4 linked regions of the Homo sapiens genome follow. The protein of the gene in region 4 purifies or fractionates together with the protein of the main gene of each other region. This does not show direct contact. Each region holds a gene or a part of one and is shown on either strand. Other genes may lie near its edges.

Region 1 (3,500 bases), on a different chromosome or scaffold from region 4:
TGGATTCTCAATAACCCTTTTAGTTAATATTACTAATATTATTATAGTGTGTATAATATATATTAAAAAGTTTTTAAAACTTTTTATTTTAAGATAATTTTAGATTTACAGAGGAGTTGCCAAAGCTAGAATTCTGTATACCTTTCACTCAGCTTCCTCTAACGTTAACATCTTACGTAATCATGATTACATTCATCAAAATTAAGAAATTAACGTAGATGTTAATACAATCAACTAAACTGAAGACTATTCACATTTCACCAGTTTTTCCAGTAAGGTCCTCCTTCTGTTCCAGGATCTAATCTAGGACACTACATTAAAACACACATTTTGTGACTTACGACTTCTGGGGTCAAATTTTCCAGGGTCATTTACTCTTTTATAGCCATTTCACATACGCTGCTTGTGATTTTAAGCTTGAATTTGTTCACATATATACTATATAATTATGTAATACTGTATATACATAGTATTATACACACATATGTAATACTGTAGATACATAGAGTATGTATATATATATATACACACACATACACATATATGCATGTTTGTATATATGTGTGTGTGTATCCATATACACACACACACACACTCTGTGTATCTATAGTATTATAATACTATTATTATCCCTACTTTTTTACATGTATAAAGGAAGGAATCGAGAGGTTGGGTAACTTGGTAACCAAGTTTCCACAGTTAGCAATAGAAAGTCATAGAGAGTTTGAACTCAGGCTGTTTCAAGATCCCTGCTTTTAATAGCTCACGATTATGACTAGAACACATTCAGTAAATATTTGCCTCCCTCTCTAAGTGTGAGTATGTTCCCCCTGAGAATGTGAACAAATTCAAGCTTAAAATCACAAGAAGCATCTGTGAAATGGCTATAAAAGAGTAAATGACCCTGGAAAATTTGACCCCAGAAATCCTAAGTCACAAAATATGTGTTTTAATGTGGATTAGATCCTGGAACAGAAGAAGGACCTTACTGGACAAACTGGTGAAATGTGAATAAAGTCTGCAATTTAGTCAATTGTACATTAATTTCTTAGTCTTGATGAATGTAATCATGATTATGTCAGATGTTAACATTAGAGGAGGCTGAGTGAAAGGTATACAGAATTCTATTCTATCTTTGGCAACTCCTCCACAAATTTAAAATTATTTTAAAATAAAAAGTTTTAAAAAAATTGGGAAGAAAATCACTCAGAAAGTCTGTTTTGATATAAAATAAAACTTTCTTTTTAAAATCCTTCGAAGTATAAAGAATTTCAAAAATAATTAACATTTTAATCACACTGTAAACATTGTGCATTCAGATATTTTTTTAAGCTGACAGACTAGTTAGATGAAAAGAGTCCAGACTGAAATGTTTGGAATGGGTGTCTCAATCCTAGATTAAAATAAGTACTCTTTCTAACATGTCTTAAGACACTACTTTTAAGGAATTACTCCAGAAAAACTTCAGGAAATAATTTTTGCCTGGTTAGTAGCCTCAAGGATTTAAACTGATTAATATTTTTATTAAATATTTCTGTAGTAGATTACATTTTTTTCTTTCTTTCATGAGAAGTGTTTTATCAGAAAGGTGTGTCTAAAATGGATGCTTTCCTTGTTTATTTTCTGGGTGTGTTTGGAAGTAGACTGTTGCTTATCTTCATACTGCTCCCAATATCACCTTCTTCTGAAATAATTTGTTTTGGTGTGTTTGGTATATTTGAAAATATTCCCAAGAGCCACAGACTGGTGAAAATTCTTCCTTGAAGGGGTTGATTGGTAATATATATATGTGATACTTATAACTTCATTTTTCTTCTCTCCTTGACTCTGACCAAAACCTTTGCACTGATTGATTATAGTTGTGCCAAAATTGTTCACAATGTCTGCTAGATAAACCATAATAATCTAGAGCTATTCAATAGCAGACAGGTCCTTACTAAAAAATAATTTAGAACTAGAGAATTATTAAGGTCAGGGAATAGTATAATAAGAGCACTGTTCTGATTTTCCCCAAAATTATGATGTGCCTTAGTTCAGAAAACCCAGCCTTGCTAGGAGCGGTGCCTCACGCCTGTAATCCCAGCTTTTTGGGCGGCTGAGGCCGGGGGACTGCTTGAGCCTAGGAGTTTGAGATAGCCTGGGCAGTATAGTGAGATCCTATCTCTCCAAAAAAAAAAAAGATGAAAAAAGAAAGCCAACTCTTGATCATGTTCACCAATGAGCATCATTCGCTCTTCACTATCTGCTGAAAGGAAACAGAGAGGGCAGTTTATCCAAAGCCTAAGTACTTTATCCACCGATAAAGTTCTCAAAACTAAAGAGGAAACAAATAAATTCCCTGTTTGTAGTATGTGCAGATCAAGTCAAAGCAGATCACCTTTTGTAGTGACCCAGCAAGTGCTTTTCTAACTGTGTTTTTCAGAGCCCTGGGGTTCTACAGATCTCAGAGCATCTGGAAGAGAGAGAAACAGGTGGAAGTCAGCTTCATTGGCAAAAAATACTAATCTGGGGTTTGGGGGAAGATTTTGTTCCAAATGGGAAAGTGGGTTCTGACAAGACCTTGGGGCATATTGGTTTGAGGGGCTCTTCTCCTTTTACTCCAGTTTTCTGAGATTCCCTAAGAAAGTCCTCCTGCTACAGGCCAGCACAGTGAGCTCCTCCTTTTGTTCTTTTTTGCAGGATGACTTACTGTCTCTGAAGGTTGTAAGTGTGCTACACCATCTCAGTATCAAAAGGGCCATCCAGGTCCTGAGGATCAATAACTTTGAACCAAACTGTCTACGGAGGCGGCCATCTGATGAGGTAGTGTTTTAAGATTGAGGTTTATAAGCATGCACTTCCCAGGCATGGGACTGTCCATGTGTCGAAACTAAGAGCCATTTTTCTTGGAGCCTGCAGGAAAAGCCTTAAAATCCAGCCTCATTTACTTCTTAGGCTTTTTCTGTATTCCTTCCTTTTCTCTCCATGACGGTTCCCCTTGTGTAACTAAAGCCAAGGGTTCTTTTTCAGTTATGCTTCTTCCTTTTCTTGGGTGTATTTTTTTTTCCTGACTCTAATCAACAGAGATAAATATCACTATAAAGACTTCCTTTTCTGGCCAAGTATAGTGGCCAATGCCTATAATCCCAGCACTTTGGGAGGCCAAGGCAGAAGAATCACTTGAGCCCAGGAGATCAAGACCAGCCTGGGCAACATAGGAAGACCCTGTCTCTACAAAAATAATAATAAATTAGCCAGGCATGGTGGGTGCACGCTGGTGGTCCCAGCTACTCAGGAGGCTGAGGTAGGAGGATCCGTCTGAGCCTGGGAGATGGAGGCTGCAGTGAGCCCTGATTATACCACTGCAACGCCAGCGTGGGTAAGAGAATTAGACCCTGTCTTAAAAAAAAAAAAGACTTCCTTTCCTAAAGCAATGCTTTATTAGTATATAAGAAAGCTTGAAACTCAAACTATGACAGAAATTCTTTAAAAGAGAATTTTTCCCTTTCTTTTTGCATTTA
Region 2 (2,989 bases), on a different chromosome or scaffold from region 4:
CTGAACTCAAGTGATGTGCACACCTCAGCCTCCCAAAGTGCTGGGATTATAGGCATGAGTCACCACACCCAGCCTTAAGCCTTTGCTTTTTACTAAGAATATAACTAAGTTATGACATCAACTGAGAAGCAGAAATGTACTTATTAAAAATTTAACAACTTCCTATGATAAAGCTTAATTTAAAAAAAAAAACTAGGCTGGGCTCGGTGGCTCATGCCTGTAATCCCAACACTTTGGGAGGCCGAGGCGGGCAGATCACCTGAGGTCAGGAGTTCAAGATCAGCCTGATCAACATGGTGAAACCCCGTCTCTACTAAAAATACAAAAATTAGCCAGGCATGGTGACACGTGCCTGTAATCCCAGCTACTTGGGAGGCTGAGGCAGGAGAACTGCCTGAACCCGGGAGGCGGAGGTTGCAGTGAGCCAGATCACGCCATTGCACTCCAGCCAGGGCAACAAGAGCAAAACTCCATCTCAAAAAAAAAAAAAAAAAAATTAGAGAAACCACTTCCCTTTAATTTATAAATCCAATTCCAATTTATATTTAATGAAAAAGGTGGTATTAATCCAAAAACAACTGCTTCGATGTGTTACTTAACATTACTTGTAATTGTCTTGTTTGGCTTATCTTATTTAATTTACTTTGGTTTTATGCATCTATAATTAATTCTTCTGACATTTTCCAAATGAGTGGATTGCTGCTTATAGCTTAAAATTAACTCAAAATAATATCCCACTGCCACCTAACATACTCTAGAGCTGTCTACTTCCATATACCGGTCTTTTCAAGAAAAACAATCTTGGCCAGGTGCAGTGGCTCATGCCTGTAATCCCAGCACTTTGGGAGGCCAAGGCAGGTGGATCACCTGAGGTCAGGAGTTCAAGACCAGCCTGGCCAACATGGTGAAACTGCGTCTCTACTAAAAATACAAAAATCAGCCAGGCATGGTGATGGGTACCTGTAGTCCCAGCTACTTGGGAGGCTGGGGCAGGAGAACTGCTTGAACCTGGGAGGTGGAGGTTGCAGTGAGTCGAGATTGTGCCACTGCACTCTAGCCTGGGCAACAGAGCGAGACTCTATCTAATAAAAAGGAAAAAAAAATCTCATCCCAAACCACTTAAATTATAGAGACTGATTTTAGTAATCGGACACATTCATTCACCCTTCCAAAACATATTCATTAAGCCTCCTCCAGATGCTAGGCATCATTCTAGGTACAAGGAATATTGCACTGAAACAAAACAGAGGCCCTGCCCTAAGCAATTTATACTTTAGTGAGGAGAGACAGACAAGGAACACATAACAAGAGAAACATGGTTTGAAGATGAGAAAGACAAAGCAGAGCCATGGAAACAAGAAGGTCGGAGATGGGCAAGCAGGGCCTAACAGAAGCAGACATTTGAGTAGAGATCTGAAGTGAGTACAAGATCAGCCATGGGGATGCTGGGGAGAATGGAGGGGCTGGACAGTCCTAGGCAAAAGGAACAGCAAACTCAGAGGCCCAACTGTGAACTGCCTACCATGCTCAAGGAAGGAGCGGAGGTCAGAGAGGAAATGGGGGGCAGATCACTCAGGGCCCTGGCCACCCCTGCAAAGTTTGCCTTTGATTGCAGGTGAAAGAGGGAAACCACTGAGAGGCTGTAAGCAAGCAAGTGACACGACCTCCATCTTAACTCACTTGAAAGGCACCCACCAGGTCTACCAAGACTAAACTGCAGCCTACTGTAATAATCCAGAAGGAAGATGATAGTGGCTTGAGCCACGTGGTGGCCATGGAAGTCATAACAAGTGGTCCAATTCTGAATGTATTTTCAATAGAGCCAATAGGATATGTGAATGGGCTGATGTGAGGGGATGATTCCAAGGCACCTGATCTAGGCAGCTGGAAGGATGGAGCCGCCATCAACAGAGATGACCACCAAAGGAAGGGGTTGGTTGGAAGAAAGCCGGGAACTGGATTTGGGATATGTTAACTTTGCAGTGGCTACCAGACATCCAATAGGTGTCTAATGAAGATTTCAAGGAAGCAGTAGCATGTTCAAGTGTGGAGTTCAGAGGTTTGAGATACAAATTTGGAGCTGTCAGAATAGTGATGTTACTTAAAAATCCATGAAACTGGATGAAATTTCTGAGGAGTAGGTACAGACGATGCAGAGGAGAGGTTGAGAGAATGAATCCAGGGGGCAGCTGGGGGATGAGGAGGAACCAGCAGGGCAGGAGGGGGACCACGGACATCCTAGGAGCAAGGAGGGGAGGATCAAGTATGGGATGCTACCAAGGACTGGGATTCACGGTCATGTTCAACCCTGGGCCTTCATCCCCATGGGAAAGAAGGCTGAAGAAGTGAGTATCACAAGCGTTTTTGAGGAGTTTTACCATTAAGAGGGCAGAAACATGAAGTGGTGGCTAAAGAGGGAAGTGGGACCAAGACAGGGAGGCATGTTTCATGTCTGTGTGCTGCTGATGGGCACCACCTAATATGGGGAGGGGTGGTAGCACGAGAGAGATACTCATTGAATGAATGTCCTTGGGTAGGTGGGAGATGAGATCCCAGCCCAGGGAAGGGCTGACTGACTACGAGCTGCATGGTTCGTTTCCAGCAACAAGAGGCGTCAGGAAGGGGATATAGGGAGGATGCTGGATGTGGCTGGGAGGGCAGGGAAGGCAGAGGACAACCTGTGGAAGGTCCCTTATTCCTGATTCTACTCAGTAAAATGGTAAACATGGCCATCAAATGAAAGCAAAGGAAAGGTATGCATGGGAGGGAGGGAAGTGGGCAATGTAGAGGAGGGGCAGCCCCAGCTCCTGTCCATTCACAGCATGGGATGATCCACCAATGCCTCAGGCTCCCAAGGGCAGGGTGCCTGTGGCCAGCCATAGTGTTCAGCACTCACCATCTTCTGAGCAGACTTAACCACATGAATTTCCCAGAAAAACTTAACACTGACTTTCAATAATAAATAATAAATGAAATTCACTTCAATATA
Region 3 (3,500 bases), on a different chromosome or scaffold from region 4:
CTCAGTTGACTTTCAAAAATCTTAACAGTCTAGTGACCAGGCACGGTGGCTCATGCCTGTAATCCTAGCAGTCTGGGAGGCCGAGGCAGATGGATCGGGCAGATCGCTTGAACTGGGAGTTCGAGACCAGCCTGGGCAACGTGGCGAAACCCTGTCTCTGCCAAAAATACACAAAGTAGCTGAGCATGGTGGTGCATGCCTGTGGTCCTAGCTTCTCGGGAGGCTAAGGCAGGAGGATCACTTGAGTCTGGGAGGCAGAGGTTGCAGTGAGCCGAGATCATGCCACTGCACTCCAGCCTGGGTGACAAAGTGAGACCCCATCTCAAAAAAAAAAAAATCTTAATAGTCTAGATATAGAAAAAAGGTGAAAATTATACATATATAAAATGTTTGGGGGGGGGGTTACGTGCATTGGAACTTTCACATAAGGGGGTTAGTGACAATCAGATTTATGTAAGAATGATGAAATGTTTGAAAAATTCTGTGATGACAGATAAACATTATACCATAAATTTGTTGAAATCATAACACAGTTCTAGCTTTTAGTTTATGTTCTGTGGATTTCTTGTGTGTGTTTACGGGTGTTTTTATATATGTATGTATGTATGATTGTTCCTCCAAATCACCCACCTCATTCTGGATATTTACTAATCAGATTAGGTTTAGCTCTACTAGAAACTTACCCTTAGAGTGAAAAACTACTTGATGCCAATGATGATCTGCGGGATAAAAGCGAAGCAATGAGAGACTGCACAAAAGGAGACCGCTCCAAAAATATTGCGCAATGATGGAGTCACTGGGAAAAAAAAGACTGTCTACTGCAGGCAGAAATGTACACTCCTAAGCTAGAGGCTAATTGTTTGAATAAATATAGCATCTTAAAATTTCCTTTCATAAATAAAACATAGTGATAGAAGAAAGATGAAGCCCAGGAGTGCTATGTGAGCACTTAATCTGACACGAAGGAGAAAATCACAGAAAGAAAGCCTTCTTATAGAGAAGTCACCTCATTCTCCCAAGAAGCTAGGACCACAGGCATGTGCCACCATGCCCAGCTACTTTTTGCATTTTTAGTAGAGACAGAATTTTGCCGTGTTGCCCAGGCTGGACTCAAACTCCTGAGCTGGAGTGATCTGCCTGCCTCAGCCTCCCAAAGCACTAGGATTACAGGCGTGTTCTTCTGGACACTCATGCCCTCTGTCTGCTCTGTATGCCTATTGGGTGATTTGCTCTACTTGCCAGCTTTGCTGTAAAAAGACGAAAAAAAAAAAAGGGGCAGTAAGTATAACTGCTTATGCGAGTGTGCATTTTGGTGGAGGAGTTTTATAAATGATAGACAAAATTCCCCTTTAGGCTCTATTTAATCTTTCAGATAGTAAATCCAGATTTGCCCCCAGATGTAAGACGTCATGTGACTAGTAGCTTGTGACTGTGTAAGTCATCGGTTTCACTTTATGTATGGATAGGATTACACGCAGAGGTGAAAGGTGAAACGCTGGTTAAGAGTACAAGTTTCAAGTTTGCTCTGTGCTTCCATACAAATATAATAGAAGCAGCTTCTGTAGAATTTCCTTAGCAGTAAACCAGACGTGTTCCAAGAGAATAACAGTAATAAAAAAATTTAGGTTAAAAATCTTAGAGTTAAGGCTTAAAGTACTGCCTAAATGTCACTAAGGTACACTTCTGAGCTGGCCTGCAGCTAACTTCAGATCTGACTTTTGCTTGAATTGCAGTCATCCGAATTTCACTAGGAACATAGGCAAAAGATAACTTTTGCAAATAAATTTCATCATTTCACCTTTATGGCAAATAATGGATTTCTAATATGAAACTTTAATAATATTAACATATGGGAATTACATTAACATGTGACTAGTTACACTATCATTGGAATTTTAACCAACTGCTTCCAAATACAGTTAGAGAATTTTATAATTATTTGATATAATGGGGATAGCTGGGACTGAATGTCACTTGGACATTCAAAAGATCAATACTTGAATTAAAGTTAACACTTATCTTGGGAGTGGAGGTAAAAAATAAATAAAAAGCTTGTTTCAGTGCTATGAAAGATGCCTGTAAATAGCACAGCTGTTTTAGGTTTCTTGTTGTCTGAGAAAGGGTTTACAAATAAGGAAAAAGGCTACAATGAACCTCATAGCATTGGATTGGATTAGACATTAATATGAGCTTCAGGTTTCATATGTGTGTGTGTGTAAGAGTATATGCATATATATATGTGAGTGTGTATAGATATATGTATGTACACACACATATGTGTAAACAGATAAAGAAGTTGATACAGATGCATGTGTGTATACATACGTTTATTTACTAGCCATACCTGCTGAGAGGGCTTAAAAGGAATGACACCACAGAACCAATTAACTTACCTCGTGCTCAAAATTCGGTTTTTAAATATCATTCTCCAGTAAAAAGAATGGGAATCTCTAGAGAAATGCCTGATTTTAGGACGGGTGGAACAAGTCAAGTAAAGATGTGCCTGAGATATTTTGTTGTGCAAGAAACTAAGGAAATGCTTACAAAATGATGGGGACATGTGACAAAGATACAGGATACTGCCATACAAGCTCCAAACATGTAAGACAATTTGAGCAACAAACTAAATAATTACTGTAATGGGTTCAACTTATAGAGTAAACTAATAATCCATGATAAAAATGAACAAATGAATAAAGAAATGGGGGAGAAGGGAACCTCTTTCTTTTTTTATTTTTATTTTTTTATTATACTTTTAAGTTTTAGGGTACATGTGCACAACGTGCAGGTTAGTCACGTATGTATACATGTGTGGAACCTCTTTCTAACAGTAGAATTCCAGCTAATAAATGTAGAAGGAATGGCAGAAATAAAAAAGTCACCATTAAACACCACAGTGATGATTGTTGTAGGGAGGAATTAATTGATGATAACATTAGTGGGGAAAAGTGCGGTGAGAAACAGGATATTTACATATTTGCACTAAGTACAAAGGGAAAAATAATAACTTTTCTGTGGAGAAACATGGCAAAAACAACTTGAAGCAGTGTGCTTCCTGATAAACTGTGCAGGGTACATCACTTGTGTTTTATTTCTGCCAAAAATACATACGTTGAATTTAATGATAAGGAAACATCGAACATCACAGATGGAGGTATATTCACCGGCCAGTGCTCTCTGAGAGTGTCAAGGTCATGAAAAGCAAGGAGAGTGAGGAACTGTTCGAGAGTAAAAGAGACCAGGGCGACAACAGTGAAATATAGCTTATGATCCTGGATCTGAAATAGGGCATTGAGATAATTGATGCAATTTGAGTAAGCTTTTTAGGCTAGCACTGATACAACACTATTATGTAATTTCCTGATTTTGATAGTTGTATTCTGGTTATCTAAGATGTTAACATTTGAGAAATATGTGTGAATGGTAGGAATGTTTACTTTTTTTGCAATGTTTTTGTAAATCCAAAATTATTTAAAAATGAACAGTTAAATATATTTAAA
Region 4 (3,500 bases):
GGAATTTTTTAAGATCATCTTTTTTTATTTTTTATTTTTTGAGATAGGGTCTTGCTGTGTTGCCCAGGCTGGAGTGCTATGGCATGATCATGACTCACTGCAGCCTCGACCTCAGGGGCCCAAGCCACCCTCCCACCTCAGCCTCCCAAAGTACTGGAATTACAGGTACACACCACCACGCCTGGCTAATTTTTTAATTTTTTCTTTTTTTGAGACAGGGTCTCTGTCGCCCTGGCTGGAGTGCAGTGGTACGATCTCAGCCCAGTGCAGCCTCAGCCTCCTGGGCATCAATCCTCCCACCTCAGCCTCCCAAGTAGCCAGGACTACAGGCGCACACCACCATGCCTGGCTAATTTTTGTATTTTTAGTAGAGATGGGGTTTCGTCATGTGGGCTAGGCTGGTCTGGAACTCCTGAGCTCAAGCAGTCCACCCACCTCAGCCTCCCAGGGTGCTGGGATTACAGACGTGAGCCACTGCATCTGGCCATTTTTTTTTTTTTTTTAGAGATGGGGTCTCACTATGTTGCCCTGGCTAGGCTCAAGTGATCCTCCCACCTTGGCCACTTAAAGTGCTGGGATTACAGGTGTGAGCCACCATGCCAGCCCCCCCGGCGTTTTTTGAGACATGGTCTTGCTCTGTCACCCATCGTGGAGTGCAGTGGCACAATCATAGCTCACTGTAGCCTCAAACTCTTGTGCTCAAGTGAACCTCCCACCTCAGCCTCCACAGTAGCCAGAACTACAGGTGTGTGCCACCACACCCAAATAATTTTTTTTTCTTTTTTTTGAGATGGAGTCTCCCTCCGTCACCCAGGCTGGAGTACAGTGGTGTGATCTCAGCTCACTGCAACCTCTGCCTCCTGGGTTCAAGTGATTATCCTGCCTCAGCCTCCCAAGTAACTAGGACTATAGGTGCACACCACCAAGCTTGGCTAATTTTTGTATTTTTAGTGGAGATGGGGTTTCACCATGTTGGCCAGGCTGCTTTTGCACTCCTGACCTCAAGTGATCTGCCCACCTTGGCCTCCCAAAGTGTCATTAGGTGCTGGGATTACAGGACAGCTACCGTGCCCACTCTAATTTTTAAATTTTTTGTAGATATGGGGTCTTGCTATGTTGCCCAGGCTGGTCTCAAACTCCTAGCCTCAGGTGATGCTCCCACTTTGGCCTCCCAAAGCACTGAGATTAGAGGTGTAAGTCACTGTGCCTAGCGAAGGTCATTCATTTTTAGATCCTGCCCCTGTAATACTCGAAAGGGGATTACTTTGGCATGCAGCTCGTGGTGACCCTGGGACCCCCAGGCTGAAATGGCCATTCAGCGGCCTGAGGGTCACCCGATCCATGTGATGTGGACAGGACAGCTGGATCACAAGGGTCAGCCCCAGCGAGCAGGCTCACTCATGATGGACATATTGAGAGACCTCTTAGTTGTTTAGATGGTTTTGTGGGAAGCAGCAACCTTAAAGGGTTGGCTTGTAATTATACAATTATGCATATTGTCTATCCCTTCACTTATCTGTACTGAGTAAAGGGCACCAAGAGAGATTTCCAGATGTTGTCAGAGCTGGGATAGTTCTATTTGTCATCCTGGTGCACTGTTGGAATTGAGAGATCTACATTCTGGAAATAGCTTTGGTCTGGACTAGGAAAGAGGAAGGAGTGAGGGAGTGTGGAGCGTTGTCAAGACTATGGACCATATGCTGGGGAAGGAAAGGATGCAGATGGGGAGAAAGAGATGAGGTCTCTGGCATGAGCCCTGGGTAGCAGCTGGTACCACTTGGGGAGTGGGGAGCCCCAGAGCTGGTGGCCTTGGAGGAGGGGCTTTGTGAGCCCAGTGCCACATCCCTGGGGTCTGGGAGCCAGAGACAGGGAGAAGCAGACCCGTACTGCTAAGAGGAGAGGGCTGGGCTGAGGGTGACGCATCAGGATGTGCCAGATTGTGGACCTGGCATAGTCTAAGCCCTGGGAGAGGTGAGCACTGTTTTCCAGGCAGGGAGCCCAAAGCGTGAAGACCTGGGGAAGGGACAGAGTGCTGAGCCTCAGGTTTCTCAGAATTTTAAGCGCAAGTTCTCCAAAAGCAATGTAACTCAAACCTTGTCTAATTTTATTGACATACTGATGGTCCCCAGCTTACGATGGTTCAAATTACAATTTTTCAACTTTACAATTGTGCGAAAGCAATATAGGCTTTCAGTACATTCCTCAACTTACTTCCAAATAAACCCATCGTAAGTTGAAAATATTGTATGTCAAAAATGCACTTTTTTGGCCAGGGATGGTGGCTCACGCCTGTAATCCCAACACTTTGGAAGGCTGAGACAGGAGGATCACTTGAGGCCAGGAGATCGAGGCCAGCCTGGGCAACATAGCAAGACCCTTGTCTCTTAAAAAAAAGAAATGTGTTTGGCTGGGCGCGGTGGCTTACGCCTGTAATCCCAGCCCTTTGGGAGACCGAGGCGGGCAGATCACCTGAGGTCAGGAGTTCCAGACCAGCCTGACCAACATGGAGAAACCCTGTCTCTACTAAAAATACAAAGTTAGCTGGGTGTGGTGGTGCATGCCTGTAATCCCAGCTACTTGGGAGGCTGAGGCAGGAGAATCGCTTGAACCTGGGAGGTGGAGGTTGCGGTGAGCTGAGATCGCGCCATTGCACTCCAACCTGGGCAACAAGAGCAAAACTTCGTCTCAAAAAAAAATGTACTTTTGACTTGTGATATTTTCAACTTACACTGGGTTTATCTGGATGAAATCCCATTGAAAGTCAAGGAACATCTATATATTCATTTGGGCATAAGTGGAAATACTGGTAAGTAGCCTGAACTCACTGATCGGAGTAATTAGGGTGAGGCTAATGTGGTGATTTAAAGCAAAAAGAATGTGAAGTAAATAAGCATATAGGTGGCCAAGAGATATAGTCATGCAGGTGTTGGGAGAGCAACTGGTGCTGGGCGACAGACATTAGAGGACAGGAGGGCTCCCAGCAGCTTCTGGGACTGCCGTTCTGCCCCTGAAGATTGGCTCCCCCTGCCTTCAGCGCAGCAGGATTTGCGGCCTTGTCAGAGAGCAGCCAGCTGGGATCCAACGGGACCTTCTGGGAGGTCCTGCAGGGGTTGCTTCCTTCCGTCTGCCTTGTTGTCCCCCTCCTGTCCTCACCTGGTCTTGTTCTGGCTGTCCATGGACCCTGGGCTGTGGCAGGTAGTGTGGGGCTGCAGGTGCATGTCCCGGGTGGGGCATGGGCCACCGACGGGCTTTGCAGGGTCCCCTCCCCTGCCCCCTTCACGGCTGCATCTGTCTCTTTCCTCCACAGGGGGAGGGGTTGCACCAGCTACGCGAGGCTTTGAAGATTTTAGCTGAGAGGGTTTTAATCTTGGAAACAATGATTGGGCTCTATGGTGAGTAGAGACAGACAGACGGACAGACGGCCCAGCCCCTGCCTGCCAGCCTTCCCCAAGCCCTCCTGGGGTGGAACTGGCCTGAGCCCAGTCATGAGGCTGGAGAAG

What was found. The genes of interacting proteins can lie anywhere in the genome.
Region 1: the proteins of EMID1 (region 4) and PPFIBP1 purify together in Homo sapiens (affinity purification with mass spectrometry; one large-scale study listed by BioGRID and IntAct). This does not show direct contact.
Region 2: the proteins of EMID1 (region 4) and MCM3AP purify together in Homo sapiens (affinity purification with mass spectrometry; one large-scale study listed by BioGRID and IntAct). This does not show direct contact.
Region 3: the proteins of EMID1 (region 4) and RAB32 purify together in Homo sapiens (co-immunoprecipitation; one large-scale study listed by IntAct). This does not show direct contact.

Annotation. Positions count from the first base shown.
Region 1 is NC_000012.12:27,684,706-27,688,205, forward strand, and holds part of PPFIBP1 (liprin-beta-1), read left to right. Parts: intron 1-2,679; coding exon 2,680-2,802; intron 2,803-3,500. UniProt on the Homo sapiens protein: May regulate the disassembly of focal adhesions. Did not bind receptor-like tyrosine phosphatases type 2A.
Region 2 is NC_000021.9:46,237,623-46,240,611, forward strand, and holds part of MCM3AP (germinal-center associated nuclear protein), read right to left. Parts: intron 1-2,989.
Region 3 is NC_000006.12:146,550,333-146,553,832, forward strand, and holds part of RAB32 (ras-related protein Rab-32), read left to right. Parts: intron 1-3,500. UniProt on the Homo sapiens protein: The small GTPases Rab are key regulators of intracellular membrane trafficking, from the formation of transport vesicles to their fusion with membranes.
Region 4 is NC_000022.11:29,250,896-29,254,395, forward strand, and holds part of EMID1 (EMI domain-containing protein 1 isoform 1 precursor), read left to right. Parts: intron 1-3,034; exon of another isoform or gene 3,035-3,195; intron 3,196-3,307; coding exon 3,308-3,392; intron 3,393-3,500.